7 linked regions of the Homo sapiens genome follow. The protein of the gene in region 1 purifies or fractionates together with the protein of each later gene. This does not show direct contact. Each region holds a gene or a part of one and is shown in the gene's direction. Other genes may lie near its edges.

Region 1 (3,500 bases):
TGGAACTACAGGTGCCCACTACCACGCCCGGCTAATTTTTGTATTTTTAGTAGAGACAGGGTTTCACTTGGCCAGGCTGGTCTCGAACTCCTGACCTTGTGATCCACCTGCCTCGGCCTCTCAAAGTGCTGGGATTACAGATGTGAGCCACCATGCCTGGCTAAAAGTAAATTTTATGGTATGTGAATTATGTCTTGATTTAAAACAAAACAGGCGAGGCGCAGTGGCTCACGCCTATAATCCCAGCACTTTGGGAGGCCGAAGCGGTTGGATCACTTGAGGTCAGGAGTTTGAGACAAACCTGGCCAACATGGAGAAACCATGAAACATGGCGAAACTAAAAATACAAAAATTAGTTGGGTGTGGTGGTGGGTGCCTGTAGTCCCAGCTACTTGGGAGGCTGAGGAACGAGAATTGCTTGAATCCAGGAAGCGGAGGCTATAGTGAGCCAAGATCACGCCACTGCATTCCAGCCTAGGGGGCAGAGCGAGACTCCATCTCAAAAAAAAAAAAAAAAAAAAAAAAAGAGTAATAATAAATAAATAAACAAATAAATAAGGGGTTTTTTGTGTTTTTTTTTTTTTTTTTTTTTTTGAGATGGAGTCTTACTCTATCGCCAGCTGGAGTACACTGGTGCAATCTCAGAATCTCAGCTCACTGCAACCTCTGCCTCCCGGGTTCAAGCAATTCTCCTGCCTCAGCCTCCCAAGTAGCTGGAACTACAGGTGCGCACCACCATGCCCGGCTAATTTTGTATTTTTAGTAGAGACAGGGTTTCCCCATGTTGGCCAGGATGGTCTCTATCTCTTGACCTCATGATCCACCCGCCTCAGCCTCCCAAAGTACTGGGATTACAGGTGTGAGCCACCACACCCGGCCAAATAAATGAGTTTTAAAAATGCACTTCAGCCGGGCGCAGTGGCTCACGCCTGTAATCCCAGCACTTTGGGAGGCCAAAGCAGGCAGATCACCTAAGGTCGGGAGTTCGAGACCAGACCAACCAACATGGAGAAACCCCATCTCTACTAAAAATACAAAATTAGCCTGGCATGGTGGCACATGCCTGTAATCCCAGCTACTCAGGAGGCTGAGGCAGGAGAATCGCTTGAACCCAGGAGACAGAGGTTGCAATGAGCCGAGATCATGCCATTGCACTCCAGCCTGGGCAACAAGAGCGAAACTCCATCTCAAAAAAAAAAAAAAAAAAATGCACTTCGAATGTGAGAATGAATGGAGTGACATGAATAGAGTGTTATCCCTGAGAAGGAACTGAAAGGATCCTAGGGCCCTTCATGGCACATTCCTTTTAGTACCCAGAAACCAGGACTGGCTTGGTGTCTCAAGGCAACTCAGAACCAAAGCCTGGAACAGGCAGCTGTATCCAGAGTGGACAGAAGCCCAGAGACTTGACTGCTGGAGAGGTAGGAACTTGGAAGTTCCAGGGGAGGGCATGGTGGGAGTGGGATGAGGAAAAAAGCAAGCTGAACTGCATCGAGTGTAGCTTGGGAAGAAAAGGAGGGGAAACGTATACAGGGAGGGGAAGCCCAGGAGTCCCAGCTAATGTAGCTTTCCTTCCCAGGTGGTCAAGTGTCCCTCAAGGTCAGTAATGATGGGCCTACACTGATTGGTGCAAATGCCTCCTTCTCTATTGCCTTGAACTTCCCTGGAAGCCAAAAGGTATTGCCAGATGGGCAGGTTATCTGGGTCAACAATACCATCATCAATGGTGAGTACTTCTCTATTCTAGGTCCTTATTCCTAGGGCTCAGGTTCCCTGGTATGCCCAGTGAGCTCAGGGAATGCCCCTTCCTTCTCTACTTTTTTTTTTTTTTCTTTTTTGAGACGGAGTCTCGCTCTGTCGCCCAGGCTGGAGTGCAGTGGCGCAATCTCGGCTCACTGCAAGCTCTGCCTCCCGGGTTCACGCCATTCTCCTGCCTCAGCCTCCCGAGTAGCTGGGACTACAGGCGCCTGCCACCATGACCGGCTAATTTTTTTTGTATTTTTAGTAGAGACAGGGTTTCACCGTGTTAGCCAGTATAGTCTCCATCTCCTGACCTTGTGATCCGCCCGCCTCGGCCTCCCAAAGTTCTGGGATTACAGGCGTGAGCCATCGCACCCGGCCTCCTCCTTTAATTTTTAAAACAAGTTATATGTGTAATACATACTCATTGTAGTTAAAATTTAAAAACACAGAGAAGGCCGGGCGCGGTGGCTCACGCCTGTAATCGCAGCACTTCGGGAGGCCGAGGCGGGCGGATCACGAGGTCAGGAGATCCAGACCATCCTGGCTAACACGGTGAAACCCTGTCTCTACTAAAAAAAAAATACAAAAAATTAGCCGGGCGTGGTGGCAGGCGCATGTAGTCCCAGCTACTTGGGAGGCTGAGACAGGAGAATGGCGTGAACCCAGGAGGTGGAGCTTGCAGTGAACCGAGATCATGCCACTGCACTCCAGCCTGGGCGACAGAGCGAGACTCCATTTCAAAAAAAAAAAAAAAAAAAAAAACAGAAAGCAAAAAGAAAAGAAAATTACAGTTGTAGTCCCTGCTACTTAGCAGTCTCAGGTGGGAGGATCATGAGCCTGGGAGGTCGAGACTGCATGATCACGCCACTGTACTTCAGCCTGGGTGACAGAGTGAGACCCTGTCTCAAAAAGAAAAAAGAAAATTACAGTCCCTAAAGTGGAGGACAGCAGAATTCAGGGGACCTAGAAGTTGAACAGACCTATATTTAAACTTGTCCTTGATATGTGACCTTGGGCAAGTTACTTGTTTTGTGTTTCCATTTCTTTTTTTTTCTTTTCTTTTCTTTTCTTTTCTTTTTTTTTTTTTTTGAGACAGAGTCTGGCTGTGTCGCTCAGGCTGGAGTGCAGTGGCAGGATCTCAGCTCACTGCAACCTCTGCCTCCTGGGTTCAAGTGATCCTTCCGCCTCAGCCTCCTGAGTAGCTGGGAGTAGCCTCCCGAGTAGCTGATACAGGCGCATGTCACCATGCCCGGCTAATTCTTTTGTATTTTTAGTAGAGACGGGGTTTCACCATGTTATCCAGGATGACTCAAACTCCTGAGATCAAGTGATCTGCCCACCTCACTGTGTTTCCATTTCCGAAGATAAAAGGATTGTTGTAAGGATTAGAATGTGATAATATGTGTAAAGTACTTAATGTAGTGTCTGCTCTAGCCTACAGTAAAGGCTAAATAAATGCTATCTAGTGCTGTTATTTATTTATGTATTTATTTTTGAGACAGAGTCTCGCTGTGTCGCTCAGGCTGGAGTGCAGTGGTGCGATCTTGGCTCACTGCAGCCTCCACCTCCCAGGTTCCAGCGATTCTCCTGCCTCAGCCTCCTGGGTAGCTGGGATTATAGGCTTCCGCCAGCACGCCTGGCTAATTTTTGTATTTTTAGTAGAGACAGGGTTTTACCATGTTGGCCAGGCTGGTCTTGAACTCCTGACCTCAGGTGATTTAACCGCTTCAGACTCCCAAAGTGCTAGGATTACAGGT
Region 2 (4,034 bases), on another chromosome or scaffold:
GGGACAAAAAGCATTTCAGGCACAGAGAATAAGAAAGTTACCCTGTAACTGAATATAAATATTTGGTATGACTGTAAAATAATTAAACAGATGCTCATTTTTGTAGACTGTTTGCTCCTTATTTTAGGACCAAGCCTCCCATAGCCTGTTTCCCTCTATGAGAGACTGAGAACACCCTTAGGCTGGTCCAGATTTTACACTTTTCAGAGCAACCCCTTCCCCAACACACACGTGCACACTCTGGCACGGCCACCTGCATGCCAAGGGGTGACTGCAGGCTGATCTTCCAAGTGGCTCTCATCAGTAGCTGTACCCTTAATCCAGGGCTGTGTATAGGGAGATTTACATTTCTTCCTCGCTGTTGGGGCCGTCTGCCTGCTAGCGACGATTCTACACTAACGGCTACATAAATTACTGTCATTAAAGTTGGGTCCTTGGGTCCCCAGAAACCTAACTAGAGGCAAAGGAGGAACCAACTAAGAGAGGTCCAGGTAACAGAGCCCGGAGCGGGACGGTCATTTGTTGCAGGCCCCTGGGGTATGTGCCTGTCTATCGCGCACCGGGTCCCAGCAGCAGTGGTTACCGGCTGAGAAGGGCTGGGTTCCCAGGACGCTGCGGGTACCTCATGCTATCACCATAGCCGGGAATCCAGTTTTCTGGTTCCCCTCGTCTGTATTTGCCTAAGGCGACTTGCCGCCGTTCCTCTGTCCCCTAGGCAGGGAGAAGTCAGCTCTAGGACACCCTGCAAAACGCCTCGAGGGGTTATCTGCCCCTTCCCGGCCGCGTCCTGGCACCGTTTCCCCATCACCCGGAGGACTGAGCGCTGTCTCAGGGCGCCCTCTGTCTCTTCCAGGGGGCAGCCAAGACGACATGCCCTGCGTCTCAGGGACGCGGTACGAGCCCTGGTATTCCCCCCGCCACCTCACACACCCCCATCCGGGAGACCCACGTGCAGCTGGGCCCGGGCTGGCGCCGCACCTCGGGGTCTGCGCGTCTCCCCGGCGCGTTCCGGGCGCAGCCCCACGACACGGACCCCTGGCGGGGCGGCATCCGAGAAGTCGCAGGCGGAGAGGGGGCGTCCTGGAGGCCGGGCGCGGGGACGCTGCGGCCCGCGGCCACACAAAGGAGGCGGCGGGAAGGCGGGGCAAGGCGGGCCGGGGGCGGGGGCGGCAGGAAGGGGCGGGGGCCCGCGCGGCGCCGCCGATAAAGCCCCCGCCGCCGCGGCAGCCAGCTTGCGCTGTGGGGCTGCCCGGGCTGCGCGGCGTCTGCAGGCGCCACCGCTGCCTCTTTCCGGCTGTGACCCTCCTCGCCGCCGCCGCTTGGCTGCGTCCTCCGACTCCCCGCGCCGCCGAGACCAGGCTCCCGCTCCGGTTGCGGCCGCACCGCCCTCCGCGGCCGCCCCCTGGGGATCCAGCGAGCGCGGTGAGTACAGGCTGCGCGGTGAGTCCCGGGCGCGGCCGGCGCTGCCCTCGGCGGGGGACGCTCCCCGGGGCTCCGCGCGCCACCGGCCCTGCTCCCTGACCTTGCGCCCGGCCGGGAAGCTGCGGGGCCAGCGGGACCCTGGGGCGCCGACGTCGGGGAGCAGAGAACTTTCTCAGCCTCCCGCGGGCCGCCTTGGCCGGGGCTGGGTGCTCGCCGGGCATCCCGGTCCCGCCCGCCGGGAGCCCCGAGCGGGACCCGGGCAGGGCAAGGCGGGGCCGCCCCGGGGTGGCGTCCAGTGATACCCGCAGCTGGGAGCACCGGGGCCGGCGTGGCTCCTGCCCGGCCATCCGAGCCGGCCCTGACCCTGAACCTGAGGTTTCCAGCTGCTCGCCGGCAACCCCTACCCCGGACTTAGGCTGCGCGCCGCCGGATGGGGAGAGACTGGCGCACTCTTACTTGTTACCTCTGCCTGGGCAGAGGGAGGTGACGCGCGGTGTGGGGAAAGCCTTTAACTTGGCCTCTGGCAGCCGATTTAACCCGAGCGAGCAGGTCTTTGCTATTTTCATCATCTGTAGAAACGGGAGTTGCGAGGCGGATGAGTGACTGCAGGTAAAATGAAAGTACGGTACTCAGAAATTCTGGAAGGAATTAGGCATTTAATGTGTCCACAAACTGAGCGGGGAAGGAAGGCTTCTATTACATAAGACAGCACTCCACCTTCAGGTATTATGGAAGATGCTGTTGAAGGTTTTAGTGTTTTAATGAACGAAACACATTCTTTGTGTGTGTGTCTCTGGAGAAATCTCGAATGCTGCTGTCTTGCTTTGGCTACTTTGCAGGGGACGTTCTTATATTTAGCATCAGCATAAAAAGGTGTTCGAAGGTGTGACTTCCTCTTTCAAGCCAAGAAGCCGTTTATTTGTCTGAATTGTTGTGGAACAATATATGTGATAATTGTGTACTTTGAAGATTTTATATCAAAACTTGAGCACAGATAACTGGAAGAATTGTCAACATTGCTAATTTGTATATCCTAAACCACACTTCGAAAATTGAAGACAGTTTCAACACTATCTGAAGGTCTAAATCAGTACTTATTTGCTATTTGCAGTATTTCAATAGAAAAATTTTTGGCTATGCAAATGAAGGTACTAACCTGAGTAATCTAAGGTTTCTTTTAACCCCCAAATTTTGATTCTTTGTTAAAATAATGTTTGAAAATATCGTACCATGCAGGGCAATTACTGAAGGTCATGAAAATGTCATCGTATTTTATTCTAAAAACAAAAATGAATCTATGCAGAAAATTTCCGTGTCCCATGAACTTCATATTAGTTTAATTTTAAAAGTACTGTCTCCAAAAAAAGCTAATTTTCACTTCCACACAAGGGTGATTAAATACCAGTCAGAGATTGTTTGAGGTGGTAGAGTTGGAAATGAGGTGGTGACCTGGCCACGTCCCTGGGTGCATCTCAGCCTTGCTGTCCTCTTCCAGCCAGTTCTTTTCCCATCGCATGGGGACTTTGGCTCTTGGGCTATTTCTCCTCCTCTAGACCTAAAGTCCATGTGGGGGACGCTCTAGATGCGCACTTCCTTGACTGTCTCAAATCCAGTGTCTTCCATGTACTCCAGCTACCAAGTCCTCTAAGTACCTCCAAGTCTTGCCCTCTCTTGAGATGCTCAACTTCTGAAAACTCTTAGTGCCTCCAACCCGCAAGCTCCTTCCTTCCGGGTTGCAAACCGGACTCCCACTGTAATCTTCAATGCAAGCGATCTCCAATGCTTTTCCTCTTGCGGGTTTGGCAGGTGACTTTGTAGCCCATTCTACCAGGAGAATAGAGGTCATAAGTATCTCCTCACGTCCTCCCCCATCTCCCCTGTACAGACTTTTCTGTGTTTACCCAGTCATCCAATAAATCTTCTTAAGCATCTACTGTGTCTGGGTACTTTGTTGGATACTCATAGGTGGTAAATAGAGCAGATCCTTGCTCGCTTGAAACTGTCATTCTTGTGGGAGAAAACCAACTAAAAGCAAACATAATATGTTGTAAAATGTATGATAAATGAATAAGGTAGAATTATAAAGAAAAATCAAGTTAGACTGAGAACTTAGAGAAATATAGAGAGATGGCCTCCTTGGGGCAGTGACTAATGTCTCCAGCTGTGTCCTGAATCCCAACTCCCAGTGCCTCTCTCTCCTTGTGAGTGTTACTCCCTTTTCTTACTTTTATCTTCAGTCTCTCCCTGTGAGCTTTTTTCTTTTTTAGTAGTATTTTAAGAATGCCTTAACCTCCCTTGTCCCTGCATCCTCAGCTCACCTGTAGTGACAACCACGTCTCTCCAGGCTTCTTAAACTGGTCTGCCCTTCCTGTTCAGCTCTTTGCAAGCTGGCCAGAGTCTCCTCAAAGTTCAAGGCCTGTGACTTCCTGAACAAGCAATCTTTTTTTTTTTTTTTTAATTTTTATTAATATGCTTTAAGCTCTGGGGTACATGTGCAGAACGTGCAGGTTTGTTACATAGGTATACACGTGCCATGGTGGTTTGCTGCACCCATCAACCCATCACATTAGGTATTTCTCCTAATGCTATCCCTCCCCTACCTCACTCCCCGC
Region 3 (3,500 bases), on another chromosome or scaffold:
TGAGTATTTTCAGTGGCAGCAAAGAAGTGGGAGGCCTTGGAGAAAGGAGAAGGAGCCCCCTGAGATAGAGAAGCAGGGGAGTCACAGCAAGGAGGGGAGAGCCAGCCAGAACTGGGAAATGATGTAGGGGCAGGGGCGTTGGAGGTAGGCCAGGTTTCCTGCTGTCCCTGCAAGAGCAGAGGAGGAGATCATCTGAGATCCACTGAGTCAGCCATCCACTTGACTTCCCAAGAGTCTGGACCTGGCCTCCTACCAGGGCATCTCGTTGATGGTGTGGTCCACAGTCTGCCTTATATATCCTGGGGCTGTGGCTTGGAACATGATTATGCTTAGAACATATTGCTTAGAACACGTTTATGTTCTAAGCAATCTGAGGTACAGTCGCTAATTTAGGAGCACAAAGTATTTCCTGATTTAGTATTCTACTTAGAAGGCCATTTGAACCTTGACAAACGTTTGTGAAATAATTTTCAAATATTTGAGCCTGAAGCAGATAATATCCAGGCTCAGTGGCACACTCCTATAGTCCCAGCTACTTGGGAGACCGAGGCAGGAGGGTTACTTGTGCCCAAAAGTTGAAGCTAGTCTGGGCAACATAGCAAGACGCCATCTCCAAAAATATATTGCATGAGCCAATAAATTCACTATTGAAACAATAAAACAGATAACGTCAAAACCGGTTACATGACCTTTTGTCAGCTCATGACTCTATTGTGCATTTAAAATTGCTATAAATTATTTGTTTTCCTTCACATTTAATTTTCTAAAATTTCTCCCCATGTTAAATCATAGTATCTTCCTAACTATTCAGTATTTGGCTTTGTTGGGCTTTGTTGTTGTTTGAGACAGGGTCTCACTCTGTTGCCCATGCTGTAGAGCCGAGGTGTGATCTCAGCTCACTGCAGCCTGGAACTCCTGGGCTCAAGCAATACTCGCACCTCTCAGTCTCCTGAGTAGCTGGGACTGCAGGCATACGCCTCCACACTCAGCTAATTTTTGTATTTTTTTTTGTAGACACGGGGTTTCACCTTGTTGCCCAGGCTGGTCTCGAACCTCTGGGCTCAAGCCATCCACCGGCCTCGGCCTCCCAAAGTGCTGGGATTACAGGCGTGAGCCATTGCAACCAGCCTTGATTTGTTGTTTTTTAAGTAGCAGGAGTAATTTCTTTAGCTGAAATGTAAGCATAGAGGTTGGGGTCTGTGTGCTAACCTGTGTTGTGTTTGCAGTTGTAATTTAGATTCGAGAAGTGGTTTATCCTTTGACTGGAAAAGAAAAGTAGCTGCAGTATTCCCCCAGCACTTGCTGAGAGCATGCCGTATGCCAGGCTGTGAGGCTCGAGAGACAAGCAGTGGAAGAGTTGCGGCCTGTTTCATCTCTGGATTGTAAATCTGAGCCTCCTTCTGGCCCCTGGAAGGGGACAGCATCACCATGGAATGGTGTGTCCCGTTGCCTGTTGGATCTGTCTCCATCTTCACTCAGACAGAAGGCTATAGAAAGATGCCTGTGACTTCAGGTGGCCTATTTGGCTGGCTTCTTATTGATTCCATAATCTGGGGTATCCACTTAGAGATCCAGAAACAAATACATCCAAACTGCCTTCCCAATCAGGGGGCTGGAATTCTCTTTCATCTCAGCAGGAAAAGAACAGGGTCCAGGTCCCTTAGTAAAGACAGGAGCCTCGGTACCAATCAACCAGCTACTAAAAGGGATTTCCCACAGAAAATCATTCTGTGCCTCTGCTTTCAGCCTTCTGGAAGAAAGTATTAGTAATAGTAGCCGGCCTCCCCTGAGCCTTCATTACAGCCAGGCAGTGCTGGGAATCCTATTTAACCCTCATGACAACTCTAGAAGGTAGGCACTCTTACCATCCCCATTTTAGTGTTGAGGAAACAGGCCCAGAGAGGTCAAGTAAGTTGCCAGAGGTACCCCAGGTCAGAACCGAGCAGTCTTACCCAAACCTGATCCTGGTAAATCCAAAGAAAGCACCTGTCCAGGATGTGGTGGGAATGGGGACAGATAAAAAAGTGCGAGTTTGGGGGTAGGTTGAGATTTGTTTTGGCGAATTCCAAGGCGGGAAGCTGTTAGGCACCGCTGACCACTGGGCGTTAAGATGCTTTGCAGAGGGCCGCAGGGGGTGGGCTCAGAGAGGAAAGGGGTTGTGCACAGGACCGCACAACTAACACATGGCAAGGATGAGGCACAGGCATCCCCGGCGAGAAACATTATGCCCATTTGAAAGAAAAGTTCAAAATAGGATATATTTTTATCTTGACTCTTTCACCAGGATTGAAGGTCATATCCTCACACAGAATAGCCTCCCTTCCTTTCCTTTGTATGGCTCAGCCTTTTCTGGGACAAGATATTGTCCCCACCAGTCATTTCCTCTATCTGTCCTCTGTGTTGAGCCAGTAGCCTAGGAACCCAGCATTCGATCCTGTGCCCCGCCTTAGGATTTCTCTGTTCGACTCCCCTGTCTCTGTGTCAGAGTCTCAGCTCCCTGGCCTGTGTGCCTGAATGCTACAAATAGACCATAAGCTCTTTCAGAAGCAGGGTTGTGTTTTACACACGACCCTCTCCCCTGCCACACACACAGTGTGCTAAAACCCAACAATGACTATTTATTAATTTTTCTGGATTGGATGAGGTAGGATGGTAACTTTTTTTTTAAGCTTTGTAAACTGGTTCAAGGACGATTAAAAATGATTTGCCTTGTGGGGTTGATGAGGATACCATTACATTCGTATTTCTAAACGATATTCTGGCATCAGAAACCAAAGGGCATCTGATTTGATAGATCCTGTGGTCGGACCCAGGAATCTGCATGTGTCCCATGTGACTTTTCTGCCCACTAAAGTTTGGGAAGCACAGCTTCAAATTGTTACTGATCACATCCTATAAAATCATAGCATAAATGACTATCTAGCTCTTACTCACGGTGCCCACTGCAGAAACGGTCCTACCAGTGTTGATGAATATTTATACAGTGTTGTTTTTCCTGCAGATTCCTAACCAGCATAATGCTGGAGCCGGGAGCCACCAACCTGCAGTTTTCAGAATGGCCGTGTTGGACACTGATTTGGATCACATTCTTCCATCTTCTGTTCTTCCTCCATTCTGGGCTAAGTTAGTAGTGGGATCGGTTGCCATTGTGTGTTTTGCACGCAGCTATGATGGAGACTTTGTCTTTGATGACTCAGAAGCTATTGTTAACAATAAGGTTTGTATCTCAACTCTTTTCTGGTAAACTTAACTGCCCAACTGTGTCTCAGTAATCATCTAAGTATGTGTTGCATTGTTCTCTGTGGAATGTAGGTTAAGCATTGGCCTGGGCCCCGATGGTGCTCTCGATTTTTCTCTCTTTTCAACATCGCCTCCATGATTTAGTGCCTTTCTTATTGCTGGCACCAAGGTTCTGAACCCCTGCCTCAGCTCAGGCACTCCCCTCAAGAGCTCCAGTCCACATATGGATCAAAGAGGCCGTTATTCTAAGATTACAAGGC
Region 4 (3,500 bases), on another chromosome or scaffold:
AAATTTGTGTTCACCATGACCACAAAGCCATGCCATAGAGAAAAGATTTGTTGGTTTCGCTCCACTGTTGACAGGAAAACGTGGATTAGGGTTAGTCTTCATGGATCCAGTCGTGTATGCAATAAAGAAAGGCATTTACTACACAAAGTTCAGAGGACTTCGAAACCATTCTACACACAGTTTATTCACATCCTGATTATGATTTAGTTGTTGAAGGAAATAATTAAAATCATAAGTATAATCAGACTGTAGCCATCAAGTGTGTGTGTTTGTGTATATATATGTATATGTGTATGTATAATTTTTTTACTATGACAATGAGAGGAAATAGGCAGCAAATATGACTTTGCTTTCTACTGTGCTTTTTAAAGGCAGTTTTTATTATCAGCATGTAGTTTTATAATCATTGAAAAGTTAATGTCAAGATAAATACTTAGGAAAAAATATTGAATTTATCAATTGGTTCTAGTATAATCTTTAATGTTATAAATATATTAGTATACTGTGTTTTTCAAGTGCAATTTTGCTAAATGAGTCACAGCTTTTAAATCTGGAATATTATTAAGGATGGTGATCACAAATACCTTGAGAATTATTTTTGTGTCTAGGTTTAGCGACACCAGTAGACTTGAAGCTAAAATTGATACCCATTCTACAGCACATGCACCATGATGCAATCTTGGCTTCCAGTGCTCGTCAGCTTTTACAACAGCTGGTCACATCCTATCCGTCCACCAAAATGGTGATTGTGTCTTTGCACACTTTCACTCTGCTTGCAGCGTCATCTTTGGTTGATACACCTAAGCAGGTAATTTCAATTTTCTTTAAACTGCCTATCTTTGGTAAACTTACATATTAAATATATGATTAGAAATAAGAAAGTGGCCCACAAGTCTTGAGGACATTAAGGTTCTTTTCTCTAATAAAGGTCAGATTAATTTGCTTTTGCTTGCTTTTTTATTCTCTCTGTTCACAGTACTGATTGTTGGGAGCCCTTGAGGAAAATGAGATGTTATGGAGTACATGGCTGGGTGTGAAGTTGGCCGTATAAAAAAAAAAAAAGAAAGGATTGAGTATCTGTAAAATGCCAGGGCCTGTGCTAAAACTTTAAAGTTAAATGGTAGTATTTTACAAACATGGAGAAAGAGGCCCAAATGTGGGCACATAGCTAGTGAGTGACAGGGCTCTGATTTGAAGTGAGTCCTGTCCCTTTATAAGTTTCACTAAACTACACTGCATTTCTAATGATCATTTCAGTTACAGTATTGTTTATGGAGTGACTTATTTCCTTTATAGATTCAGCTTCTGTTGCAGTATTTGAAGAATGATCCCAGGAAGGCAGTAAAGAGACTTGCTATTCAAGATCTGAAATTACTTGCTAATAAAACACCACATACTTGGAGTAGGGAGAATATTCAGGTATGTAGAACTTGTAACATTTTATATAGAAAAAATAATATAACATTATAATATAGTAAAATGTTTTGCATTTTTATATTGTCTTTGTCATCTTCTAAGTGGTTGAATATGAAAAACTTCTAAAAGCATTGTTGATGTTTGTGGCAGTTATTTTATAAGTGGCACAATAAATACATAAAACTTCTATACTTCAATGTTTGTTTTAGTCAGTGAAACTTGCCACTCAGTTGCTTGTTCATTCTCCCATAGTGGCACTAAGGCTAATTGAGAAGCCCAATTACATTGGTTTGGTTTTTTTATTCTTGTATTTTTCAGTCAATTTGGGGAGAAAAATTTAGGGGCTGAATGTTATCTGTAATGGAGGTAGGGCTGGATGGGCAACTTGGGAAATATATTTCTCTCTTCCTGGAGAGCTGAAGACATTCCTAAGTCTTCTTTTGTAAACAGAAGAGCAGATCTCACTCTTTAGACTTTTAATGTGCATCTTTGACACCATCTCTTACCATCTGTTAGGTTAAATTAATATTTTATGTTTATTTTTTTCTCAAAATAGAACCCTGTTTGTTTACCCATTACCGATAGAAATAACACCATTTTGCAAATAATGCTATTTAAAATGGAACGGTAGTTTTTATCTCTCAGCTTCATCATGACTCCAGTGGATTAAAAATCTTTGAATTTCAGATTATTAAAACTAAACTGCTGTGTTTGTTTTTCTGTTTGTTTGTTTGTTGTTTTCTAAACATCTTTTAATTTACTATATTATGATTTGATAGTCACAGATATCCCAAGATAAGGGCAGTTGTTAAATCTGCATTTAATAGATAAGCAGTTAGGGTTCAGAGAGACTTAATATGCTTAAGAGAGCATCTTAAGAGAAGTAAATTAAGAATTTAATTAAGAGAGCTTCTGTCCTCTGATCCCTAGTCTTATTGCTTTTTCTACTAAATAATGCTATCTTTCCAAGAAGAGAATGTGCCCAGCCACTTTAGTCATTTTAGAGAATTTGTACAAAGAACCAAACCCAGTTATTTAGAAAGATGAGTGAGAAGCACAGTATTATTCCTTCTCATTTTTTTCTTATTGTGAGATAGATCATACATACAGAAAAGTATGTAAAATATATAAATAGTTTAAATACCTTTAAGTGAGAAAAGTATGTAAAATGTATAAATATTTTAAATACTTTTAAGTGAAAACCCATGCAACTACCATCCAGCTAGAAATAGAACATTACAGGATCACAGAACCCTGCCTCCTTCCCTTGCGTGGTCCTTCCTGGTTGAAACTTTACACCTTCCAAAAGCAAACCACCATTTTGACTTTCATGATAATAATTTCTTTGCTCTTCTTTTACCTTCTTCACATGTCTTCCTAAAGAATACTGTTTAGCTTTGTTTTTGTTTCTTTTGCTCAGCATTACACTGGTGAGACTCATCCATGTCTTTCCCCTTTAATTGTAATGTACTATCCCATTGTATGAATGTATCACAGTTTATTTGCTCTCGATGGGTTATTTCCGCATGGGCCTATTGCAAACAGTGCAGAACATTCTTCTGTTTGTCTCCCAGTTCACACACGCAAATTTCTTTAGAGTGTATACCTGGGAATGAAATTTCTGACTTACAGAAAATGCGTATCTTCAGTTTTAACAGATGATGTCAAACTGTTTTCCAAAGTCAATGAACCAGTTTACATTCCTGCTGTGTATGAGGGCGTCCATTAATCACATCCGTACCAACACATAGAATTATCAGACTTACGTTTTTTACCAGTTTAGAAGTTGTACTTTTTATGTGTAGCTCCTTGATTATTAAAGAAATTGAACACCTTTTTAATATGTTTATTGACCATTTGGATTTTCTCTTATGACATGGCTATTCAGGTCTCTTGCCTATTTTTCTGTTGATTCATAGTTATTTTTTATATATTTGGAATACTCATACTTTGTTAGTCCTTGACAATTCTATATAAATTTCAGAATCAGCTTGTCAAATTTAACAGTTTGATTGGGATTACACTGAATATAAAGATTAGTTTGTAAGAAATTGGTAACTTTATAATATTGTCTTCCAGTGCAT
Region 5 (3,500 bases), on another chromosome or scaffold:
ACAAACTATGTGCTTCTCATAATCTCACATTTACCTTTTTCAGGAATAGGATGAGTGATAATCCACCCAGAATGGAAGTGTGTCCTTACTGTAAGAAGCCATTTAAACGATTAAAATCCCACTTGCCATACTGTAAGATGATAGGACCAACCATACCTACTGATCAAAAAGTTTATCAGTCCAAGCCAGCTACACTCCCACGTGCTAAAAAGATGAAAGGACCAATCAAAGATTTAATTAAAGCTAAAGGGAAAGAGTTAGAGACAGAGAATGAAGAAAGAAATTCTAAGTTGGTGGTGGACAAACCAGAACAGACAGTGAAGACCTTTCCACTGCCAGCTGTTGGTTTGGAAAGAGCAGCTACTACAAAGGCAGATAAAGACATCAAGAATCCAATCCAACCATCCTTCAAAATGTTAAAAAATACTAAACCAATGACTACTTTCCAAGAAGAAACCAAGGCTCAGTTTTACGCATCAGAGAAAACCTCTCCTAAAAGAGAACTTGCCAAAGATTTGCCTAAATCAGGAGAAAGTCGATGTAATCCTTCAGAAGCTGGAGCGTCTTTACTGGTTGGCTCAATAGAACCTTCTTTGTCAAATCAAGATAGAAAATATTCCTCAACTCTACCTAATGATGTACAAACTACCTCTGGTGATCTCAAATTGGACAAAATTGATCCCCAAAGACAGGAACTTCTAGTAAAATTACTAGATGTGCCTACTGGTGATTGTCATATTTCTCCAAAGAATGTCAGTGATGGGGTTAAAAGGGTAAGAACATTATTAAGCAATGAGAGAGATTCCAAAGGCAGGGATCACCTCTCAGGAGTCCCTACTGATGTTACAGTTACTGAGACTCCAGAAAAGAACACAGAATCCCTCATTTTAAGCCTTAAAATGAGCTCATTAGGTAAAATCCAAGTCATGGAGAAACAAGAGAAAGGACTTACCCTGGGAGTAGAGACGTGTGGGAGCAAAGGAAATGCAGAGAAAAGTATGTCTGCAACAGAAAAGCAGGAACGGACTGTCATGAGCCATGGCTGTGAGAACTTCAACACCAGGGATTCAGTCACAGGAAAGGAGTCTCAAGGGGAAAGACCACATTTAAGTTTGTTCATTCCGAGGGAGACGACTTACCAGTTTCATTCTGTATCGCAGTCAAGTAGTCAAAGTCTTGCCTCTCTAGCTACAACATTTCTTCAAGAAAAGAAAGCAGAAGCCCAGAATCATCATTGTGTCCCTGATGTAAAGGCATTAATGGAGAGTCCCGAGGGACAGTTATCTCTGGAGCCCAAATCTGATAGTCAGTTCCAAGCATCACACACTGGGTGCCAGAGCCCTTTATGTTCAGCCCAGCGTCACACTCCTCAGAGCCCCTTCACCAATCATGCTGCAGCTGCTGGCAGGAAGACTCTTCGCAGCTGCATGGGGCTGGAGTGGTTTCCAGAGCTCTATCCTGGTTACCTTGGACTAGGGGTGTTGCCAGGGAAGCCTCAGTGTTGGAATGCAATGACCCAGAAGCCACAACTTATCAGTCCCCAGGGGGAAAGACTCTCACAAGGTAAACAAGCTTATTTTCAATTGCCATCTGTCCCATCCAAAATGCTCTCTCTGCCTTTTGAATTTATAAGGGTCAAAATACTAACATTTTCAGTCATTTAGTTTATTTTCACCTAGGCATGCCAGTAGACTGCATATAAAGTTGTCCTGAAAGAGGCTGGGTGTAGTGGCTCACACCTGTAATCTAAGCACTTTGGGAGGCTGAGGCCAAGGCAGGTGGATCACTTGAATTCAGGAGTTAAGACCAGCCTGGGCAACATGGTGAAACCCCATCTCTACTAAGGATACAAAAAATTAGCTGGGTGTGGTGGCGCACCTGTAGTCCCAGCTATTTGAGAGGCTAAAGTGGGAGATCACCTGATCCCGGAAAATCAGGGCTGCAGTGAGCCGAGTATGTGCCACTTCACTGCAGCCTGGGCGACGGGAATGAGACCCTGTCTCAAAAAAAAAAAATTGTCCTGAAAACATTACTTCTTGCTTCAGTGGTCAGTAGTGGTGGTTTATCCCTCTCTTTTTCTCTCCCCCAAGAGTTGAGGGTTACACTAGGGCAGGCTGGCGATACTGAAAGCAGTTGAGTTTCTGCCTTGAGAAGAGGCATGTCCAGTAGAAACTGGATGGGTAAACAGACTGGAGAAAAATATAAAGACTTGAAATTCAGCTAGATAGAATAAGCACTGTGTTCAGAATCCAGTCAGGACCAGGTTGTACAAGAAATAGGTTCTAAGTTTACAGGACAAGAAATAGGTTCTAGGTTTCAGGCAAATGCAACATCTAGGAATTTAGAGTAGCAAAGTAGGATGCAGGTGGTAGGACACAGGTAAAACTAGCCAGGTAAGACGGGCAGGCAAGGCAGATAAGTGGAAGTGGAGGCTCAGGAAATGAACAGTGAAGATCAAGGACCAGAAACGGAGGATGTGGCCAAAAACAAAAGAAAAAATGTAGGCCACAGAGACTAGGACCCAAGAATAAAACCAGTGATTGAGCCTGGAAACAGGAGAGATGAGGCGAGAAGGGCTTGGGGCGAAAGACTGAACGTTGAAACTCACCTTGATTATGAATCAAACTTCAGAAGCTTCCTAGAGGCTCCTTTTGCTGATGGCTGGAATCGGTTAACAGGAGGGAAGACCAAGGCCCAAGGAGCCAGGAAGTTCCTGACAGTCATTTGAAATATCTTTGCTTTTCTCTGCTGAATCTCATCTTTAGTTATGAGACCACCTCTCTAGTTAAAATACATAAAGTTTCTTAAGCTTTTCTAGGGGCAGGGTGATTGTAAAGTAGCATACCTGTCGTTTGTAAAGTAGCATACCTGTCGTGTGTAGTGGCCATTGGTGCTTTCATGCTTATTTTGACAGGAGACCTGTAACAACTCAGAATAGGTTTGCAAGAGAAAAACTGGTATTATCTCTTCCTAAAGGGAAATCATTTTCTTCTCTGGTAGATTTTGCAAATGATCTCATATTCACTAAACCTCTATTTGCCTGGTCTCAAAATGGATGTGTACTAAAAGCAGAACATTGCTAGCCCAAAGCTACATTTTCTTTAACTACCTTCTATAAACAGGCCTAACGTCTAGACCTTTTTGCACAAAGTTGTAGTCACAAAGTCAAGCCCCTTCTCCGTAATAAACACATTTAATTATATTAACATTTGTGTTGCTTTGTGGTTTTCAGAGTGCCTCCATCTGTATTTTTTTTATTTTGGGCACAAGGTGGACAGAGAGGTGGGCAGAGTGAATTTATCCTATTTTGTGGATGATGAAACAGGCACAGAGAGCATAAGTGATTTGTCCAAGTTTGTGTTGCCAATAAATAGTAGAGCTGCAAGGAGAACCTAGTTTCCTGAGGCCTAGTTTAATCTTTTCCACTAAACCATGTTGTAGAAAATACACCATAACTAAAACCATGTTTGTTATAGTGCCATACTTTTCTGTGTGTGTGT
Region 6 (3,500 bases), on another chromosome or scaffold:
GTATCCTTTCATCTGATATACCCATTAGCACTGAAAATTAGACTTCTTATGGATAAAGTGTTGCTAACTTATTGATCATTTTTGGTATACTAGAAGCATGTTTATTGCTTCAGAATAAGCACTCCCCAAGCATTAGAAGATGCTCTGTGGAGTGAATATCTCTATCAGGAACAGTATTTGTATCCTTTCATCTGATATACCCATTAGCACTGAAAATTAGACTTCTTACGGATAAAGTGTTGCTAACTTATTGATCATTTTTGGTATACTAGAAGCATGTTTATTGCTTCAGAATAAGCACTCCTCAAGCATTAGAAGATGCTCTGTGGAGTGAATGTCTCTATCAGGAACAGTATTTGTATCCTTTTATCTGATATACCCATTAGCACTGAAAATTAGACTTCTTATGGATAAAGTGTTGCTAACTTATTGATCATTTTTGGTGTATTTTTGTTCTTATGGTTATAGTGGCAATTTACCTTTACATTTTCAAAAAGTATTAAAAAGGATAGCAAAGAAGAAATATATTGCCAGTTACCAAGAGATACTAAAATTGAAGACTTTGGTACAGTACCCAGATCTCGCTATCCATTGGTAGCGCTATTGACCTTAGCTGATGAGGATGACCGGGAAATTTATGATATTGTAAGTAATTGAAAATTTTGAAAGCATTACCTTTAAGTGATTTGAATGGTGGTTCTTCATTATTTGATAAATAGAAAAAGTTTTATTTTAATTTCTGAGGATGTGCATTTGGCCTACAACAACTATATACCTATTTGGTTTTTATATGTGAAACAGTACCTTCAGATTATGACTCATTTCTTGCCTTATGGGTCACAGTAATATGACTTTATTTGGAAAATAAAAGATATATAATGGTTGAATTAAGTTAGTTTCATCATTAACACCTATTTGGTTGTATACACCTATTTAGTTTTTATATGTGTAACAGTACCTTCAGAGTATGACTCATTTTTTGCCTTATGGATCACAGTAATATGACTTTATTTGGGAAATAAAAGATATATAATGGTTGAATTAAGTTAATTTCATCATTCTGTATTCTGTCATATTTGCTGTATAGAAACAGTCTGTTGGGAAGCATGTTTATTCTGAACATGTTTAGCAGTGAATAAATAAGCACAATAATGATCGAAAGTGCTCAATTTTAAGATAGTATCCACTCTTTTTTTGCCTGCTTGCAGTCACCTTGTTTCCATCAAAGTCCCTGCTGCACCTATATCTTATATGTCTGGTCCCTGTATTTTCAGTAATTATAATAATCTCCTTTCCTCATTATGTGCTAATTATTTTTTCAGTCTGATAGTTGATTCCTATTAGGAAGTTAAAAGTATCTTAGAGATCTAAGAGGACTGAAACTTTGACAATCATCTGAGTATAATAGAAACTTAGACATGAAATAAACTTTTGATGAAATTGTATCATGGTAAAAATGTCCTTACACACAATTGACTACTTTTCTGAAGTATTTAATATAGATTATTCATTAATAAACATATGGTAACATTGTTTTGTGATATTCGTAATATGCAAAGTACGTTCACAAACATGAACTTATTTTTTTCTTCTAACAACCTGGTTTCTTAGGACAGGGCAAATATTCTCCTTTCACAGACTGAAACAGAGTCAAGAAAAATCCCAGTCATTCAGGCAGTAAGAGATGGAACAAGAGCTTGACTCTGAGCTTTTTGTGTGTGTTTGTTTGTTTTTGTTTTTTGAGTTTATTTTTTTTAGCAGGAATATCTTCCTGCAACAAGTGTACATTGAGCTTTGGAAGGTAAAGACTCTTTGGGAAATCTAGACCCTTCTTACTCATTTGCAGTTAAGCACCTAGGTTTTTGGTTTTTAATATTTTCAAACTGAAGTTCCATTGAGCTGAGGTCAGCTTATTTTTTCCAAGTCATGGGGAGCAGAGGGGAAGGAAATGGGGATATGTAGGTCACTAGAGACAAAGTTACAGATACATAAAATGAACAGGTCTAGAGATCTAATGTACAGCATAAAGACTATAGTTAATGTGGTATTGCTTTTGGGATTTTTGGTGCTCTTGCCACATGCAAAAAAAGTGGAAGTAACTGTGTAAGATGATGCGTAATTTGCATTATAATAGTAACCATTTCACTAGGTATATATATATCAAAACATCCTGTTGTACACCTTAAATATATACAATAAAAATACAAAATACAAAAGTCATACCAGCAGTAGTGTATTTCCAGAACCTAGTACAGTGCCTAGGATATAATAGGGGTTCAATAAAGATTTGATAAGTAAAAAAAAAAAAAAAAAGTCATACTAGACAATGTTAATGAGCCTCATAGAGCTTGACAGCGAAACACCTTAGCTGTACATCCCATGCACCTTAGCGTGCATGAGAGGCCTTCTGGCTTCCTCCCTCCTTTCTCTCAGTTTCAGTTAGAGATAAATAAAACCTGTTAAATTGGTGTCTCCTATTTCTAGCTTCTTTGTTCTTGACCCTGTGTACTTGGGCAAGGAAGCCCTTCTGCCCCCACTGTGTGCCCCATCTCTGCTGAGTTTCTTGGGTTCTGTTCTCCTTTTTCCTTTGGTTCAGCACAAAAGGATCAGATCGCAGTCATTTTCCCTCCCAGCTTCCCCATTGCATTCCTTTTCCCTTCACTGATAGTGCTCTCTAGGTGCTCAGGGTCTTTTTTTTTTTCTAACTTTCTTCCCCTGTCCAAACAGGGAGTGATTGTGTATCTGTGTGGTAAAATATATATATTTTATATATAAAGTTTACCATTTTAACCATTTTTGTGTGTGTGTTTTCAGTTCAGTGGCCTTTTAGGCCAGAGAAGAGTTTGCTCTCAGGTCCCTGATCACACTGGATGAAGACTGTGTGGCCCAGCTGTAGTTGTGGGAGGCTTGTTCCCATAGGGAAGCCTGAGTGTCTCCCAAGGGTTAACAGCCATCTTCTCTTGTGCTTTGTGTATGTCTCTGTGTCTGGGTCCTTTTGAATGTCTTTTATTCTCATCTGTGGGCTCCCTCCTTTTTTCCTGTTAATCCTTGCTTCTCGTCTTATTTCTTAGATTGGGGGTAATATTGGCACTCAAATATATTTATTAGTGTATTTTGTATTAATGTTCTCTGTTTATAATTTTAAAAGCAAATGGACCATTTCCTATTTCTTTTTCATATGTGTTTTTTCAGTATTGTATGTGCGTGTCAGGGACTATATTTTTTTAAAAAATTTATTAATAAAATCATTTTTATTTTAACAGCAAAGAATTATATTTAGGTAGTACAGTTAGGAACCACTTTGTTGTTTTAGATTAAAAAAAGGAAAGCAGGAATTGTTACTACAAAATTTTGACTTTAAAATTTTTTCATTTTTAGTTAATTACATTGGCTTTTTTTCAGTATTATTCAAATAATACATTTGTGGCAGGAAAAAAAATTAGAAAGTGTAGATAAGCCAAAAGGAGAGAAGTATAATAATCTGTATTCTATCATCCAAA
Region 7 (3,500 bases), on another chromosome or scaffold:
CTTTTACCGTGTTAGCCAGGATGGTTTCAATCTCCTGACCTTGTGATCCGCCTGCCTCGGCCTCCCAAAGTGCTGGGATTACAGGCGTGAGCCACTGCACCCGGCCTCCAGTGCATCTTTGATGGAGTCTTCCAAGCGCGGTTTCTGGGTCAAAGGACAGATCCATGTGCTTGGTCCGCCTTGGTGTCCAGTTTGCGGTTTTAGCTGCGGGGCGTCTCTGTTGAACACATATTGTGGCTTTAGTAGGATCTGGCCAGTGAGTTGCCATAACTGACGTTTCCCCTACCCTCCCTTTAGAGAAGAGAGAACAGAGCTGAGGCCTGGGAACCTAACCCCTCAGTGTTACTGATTTCTTTCATGGAAGCCCTTGTGGGCAGTGTCATCGTAAAGCTAACATCCTCTCTCTGTTTGGAATTTCAGCAAAGCTCTGCAGGAATATTCTCAGAGCTTCATCGTGTCACTCGTCCTGGGGAAGGATGTGATTCCCAGGTAAGCCCACCTGGTGCTGTGCCCAGGGCTGGGGGGTTGGGAGTGCCAGGTCCCAGCCTCAGTGTGCCCCTTTGCTAAACAGGCTCAGTGTGACCAACTTGGAAGATCTGAAGAGAAGAATCTTGCGAGTGGTCGCGCACTGCAATAAACCCAAGGTAAGCGGGTGCCTTGTTGAGAGGGTCAGCAGGACACGGGGCCTGTCCCTGAGATCCTGTGGAGAGCCGGGAGGAATTGCACCCTCAGTGCAGGGCACTCTATGCTGTTGCTGGAAGTTCTCCTTCCACCATCTGATCAGATTCTGGGCTAGGACTCTGTGATGTCTAAGAAAGCAAATGGCTGCAGCAAGTGCGGGAAATGTCACAGGGAGGAAACAGGATCTGGGCTGGGAGCAGTGGTGTATGCCTGGAATCCCAGCACCTCAGGAGGCCAAGGCAGGAGGATCCCTTGAGGCCAACCTGGGCAACACAACAAGACCCTGTCTCTATTCTAAAAAAAAAAAAAGAAAAGAAAATACTCTGGAGGAACTGTTTGATTTTGCTTTCTGACAAACTTCTTAGTCCTGTCTTGTGACTAACAGTTTGTTAATGCCTTTTGGCTTTGTTGTCCGAAAGCTTAGAAAGCAAGGCTGCCAAATAGACCTTAAGAGGTACAGGCACATTTATCTACACTGTGGATATCATGCAGTTATTAAAATGGTGATATATGTCCACGTCAAGGGTTTTTTAACATGGTGGTAGAAATTTATGTCTGCTGGCCAGGCGCGGTGGGTCACGCTTGTAATCCCAGCCCTTTGGGAGGCTAAGGCAGGCAGATCACCTGAGTCAGGAGATCGAGACCAGAGTGGTCGACATGGCAAAACCCCGTCTCTAGTAAAAATACAAAAATGAGCCAGGGGTGGTGGTGAGTGCCTGTAATCCCAGCTACTTGGTAGGCTGAGGCAGAAGAATCGCTTGAACCCAGGAGGCCGAGGTTGCATAAGCCAAGATCGCACTCCAGCCTGTTGGATAGAGTGAGGCTCTGTCTCCAAAAAGAAGAAATTTCTGTCTGCCGATAAAGATAGATATCCATTGAAAAGTTCAAAAGAAAAAAAACTTAAAAATTATTCTTAAGAGATATGACTCATGGCAGAGAGTGGGGACAAGGAGATACAGATATATGAATTTTGACAAAAATTTGAAAATACGTATGCCAAGGGTGGTTTTGTTTAGTGTCGGTAGAGATGATTTTTACTTGTTTAATCCCTTTGTTTTCTGACCTTTCTCATGGTTTTGTTCCTAATCAGAAAGAAGAAACGCAATTTAAATTTTTCTCCTTACCAATTACCTCCCCCAGTTTTTTCTTTTTTGAGACAGGGTCTCGCTTTGTCACCCAGGCTGGAGTGCAGTGGCGCAGTCTCGGCACATTGCAGCCTCCCAAGTTCAACTGATCCTCCCACCTCAGCCTCCTGAGTAGCTGGGGCTACACTACAGGCATGCGCCAACACACCTGGCTAATTTTTGTATTTTTTGTAGAGACAGGGTCTTACCATGTTGCCCAGGCTGGTCTCAAACTTCGGGGCTGAAGCAATCTGCTTGCCTTGACCTCCCAAAGTGCTGGGATTACAGGTGTGAGCCACTGCTGTGCCCAGCCTAAAATTTTTTTTAGAAATTAGTATCTAGGGCGGGCCCGGTGGCTCACGCCTGTAATCCCAGCACTTTGGGAGGCTGAGGTGGGTGGATCACCTGAGGTCGGGAGTTCGAGACCAGCCTGACTAACATGGAGAAACCCCGTCTCTACTAAAAATACAAAAAATTAGGCCGGGCGCGGTGGCTCACGCCTGTAATCCCAGCACTTTGGGAGGCCAAGGCGGGTGGATCACGAGGTCAGGAGATAGAGACCACGGTGAAACCCCGTCTCTATTAAAAATACAAAAAATTAGCCGGGTGCGGTGGCGGGTGCCTGTAGTCCCAGCTACTCTGGTGGCTGAGGCAGGAGAATGGCGTGAACCCGGGAGGCGGAGCTTGCAGAGAGCCAAGATTGTGCCACTGCACTCCAGCCTGGGCAACAGAGTGAGACTCCGTCTCAAAAAAAAAAAAAAAAAAAAAATACAAAAAATTAGCCGGGCATGGTGGCAGGAGCCTGTAAGCCGAGCTACTCAGTAGGCTGAGGTAGGAGAATCGCTTGAATTCGGGAGGCAGATTGTGGAGCCAAGATCACGCCATTGCGCTCCAGCCCATAGAAATTAATATCTAATGCCTTTCAGGGAAGGAAGGGTAAAGCTGATTTCCAGAATTGCCGGAAAATAATTAAGGGAAATATCCCTCACAGTCTGTATGGCTTAGTTTTTAATATTGCTCCACGTGTGATGGTTTTACTGCCCAAGAGAGAGCCCACACTCATGATCTGTGACTAGGCATAGAGCCTTGTCCTGAGCCGAGGTGGCTGCCACCCAGCACAGCTCGCCGGTGCATCTTTGCTGGAGTCTTCCAAGCGGGGTTTCTGGGTCAAAGGGCAGATTCCTGTGCCTGGTCCGCCTTGGTGTTTCGGGAGGTCTCGGGTGACAGAGGGTGAGTGACAGCATTCTACTGATTGGGTCTCGCCCTCAGTACAAGATCTTGCTGCACGGTTTGTGGTACGAACTGTTTGGAGGAAACCCCAACAACTTGCCCACGGAGCTGGACGGGGGCGACCAGGAAGTCCTGACACAGCCTCTTCTGGGGGAGCAGAGCCTACTGACGCGCTGGTCCCCGGCCTACAGCTTCTCCAGCGACTCCCCACTGGACTCTTCTCCCAAGTACCCCCCTCTCTACCCTCCCGGCAGGATCATCCACCTGCAGGAGGAGGGCGCCTCGGGGCGGTGAGTGCGGCGTGGTGGGTGTGGTGGGCAGGCAGGAGCAGCGCGGGGTCAGCCCTGGGGCCGCGTGGGAGCTGTCTCTCCTTTTCTGCTTCAGGTTTGGCTGCTGCTCTGCTGCTCACTATAGCGCCAAGTGGTCACACGAAGCGGAATTCAGCAAAATACTCATAGGTCCGAA

What was found.
Region 2: the proteins of PMEL (region 1) and SERPINE2 purify together in Homo sapiens (affinity purification with mass spectrometry; 2 studies listed by BioGRID and IntAct, with this or other methods). This does not show direct contact.
Region 3: the proteins of PMEL (region 1) and TMTC4 purify together in Homo sapiens (affinity purification with mass spectrometry; 2 studies listed by BioGRID and IntAct, with this or other methods). This does not show direct contact.
Region 4: the proteins of PMEL (region 1) and INTS7 purify together in Homo sapiens (affinity purification with mass spectrometry; 2 studies listed by BioGRID and IntAct, with this or other methods). This does not show direct contact.
Region 5: the proteins of PMEL (region 1) and MTNAP1 purify together in Homo sapiens (affinity purification with mass spectrometry; 2 studies listed by BioGRID and IntAct, with this or other methods). This does not show direct contact.
Region 6: the proteins of PMEL (region 1) and CGRRF1 purify together in Homo sapiens (affinity purification with mass spectrometry; 2 studies listed by BioGRID and IntAct, with this or other methods). This does not show direct contact.
Region 7: the proteins of PMEL (region 1) and DAGLB purify together in Homo sapiens (affinity purification with mass spectrometry; 2 studies listed by BioGRID and IntAct, with this or other methods). This does not show direct contact.

The regions. Positions count from the first base shown.
Region 1 is NC_000012.12:55,959,543-55,963,042, reverse strand, and holds part of PMEL (melanocyte protein PMEL isoform 3 preproprotein), read left to right. Parts: intron 1-1,310; coding exon 1,311-1,421; intron 1,422-1,579; coding exon 1,580-1,726; intron 1,727-3,500. UniProt on the Homo sapiens protein: Forms physiological amyloids that play a central role in melanosome morphogenesis and pigmentation.
Region 2 is NC_000002.12:224,036,487-224,040,520, reverse strand, and holds the start of SERPINE2 (glia-derived nexin isoform b precursor), read left to right. Parts: upstream 1-1,234; 5' UTR 1,235-1,422; intron 1,423-1,880; exon of another isoform or gene 1,881-2,017; coding exon of another isoform or gene 2,018-2,031; intron 2,032-4,034. UniProt on the Homo sapiens protein: Serine protease inhibitor with activity toward thrombin, trypsin, and urokinase. Promotes neurite extension by inhibiting thrombin. Binds heparin.
Region 3 is NC_000013.11:100,668,296-100,671,795, reverse strand, and holds part of TMTC4 (protein O-mannosyl-transferase TMTC4), read left to right. Parts: intron 1-1,226; 5' UTR 1,227-1,433; coding exon 1,434-1,436; exon of another isoform or gene 1,437-1,513; intron 1,514-3,001; coding exon 3,002-3,217; intron 3,218-3,500. UniProt on the Homo sapiens protein: Transfers mannosyl residues to the hydroxyl group of serine or threonine residues.
Region 4 is NC_000001.11:212,004,558-212,008,057, reverse strand, and holds part of INTS7 (integrator complex subunit 7), read left to right. Parts: intron 1-608; coding exon 609-808; intron 809-1,296; coding exon 1,297-1,419; intron 1,420-3,500. UniProt on the Homo sapiens protein: Component of the integrator complex, a multiprotein complex that terminates RNA polymerase II (Pol II) transcription in the promoter-proximal region of genes.
Region 5 is NC_000017.11:73,235,433-73,238,932, forward strand, and holds part of MTNAP1 (mitochondrial nucleoid-associated protein 1), read left to right. Parts: intron 1-43; 5' UTR 44-50; coding exon 51-1,563; coding exon of another isoform or gene 1,564-1,664; exon of another isoform or gene 1,665-3,206; intron 3,207-3,500. UniProt on the Homo sapiens protein: Critical regulator of mitochondrial DNA (mtDNA) abundance. Binds dsDNA throughout the mitochondrial genome without sequence specificity and controls mtDNA copy number by promoting its replication.
Region 6 is NC_000014.9:54,530,406-54,533,905, forward strand, and holds part of CGRRF1 (cell growth regulator with RING finger domain protein 1), read left to right. Parts: intron 1-497; coding exon 498-645; intron 646-3,500. UniProt on the Homo sapiens protein: Able to inhibit growth in several cell lines.
Region 7 is NC_000007.14:6,409,955-6,413,454, reverse strand, and holds part of DAGLB (diacylglycerol lipase-beta), read left to right. Parts: intron 1-420; coding exon 421-489; intron 490-571; coding exon 572-644; intron 645-3,074; coding exon 3,075-3,325; intron 3,326-3,419; coding exon 3,420-3,500.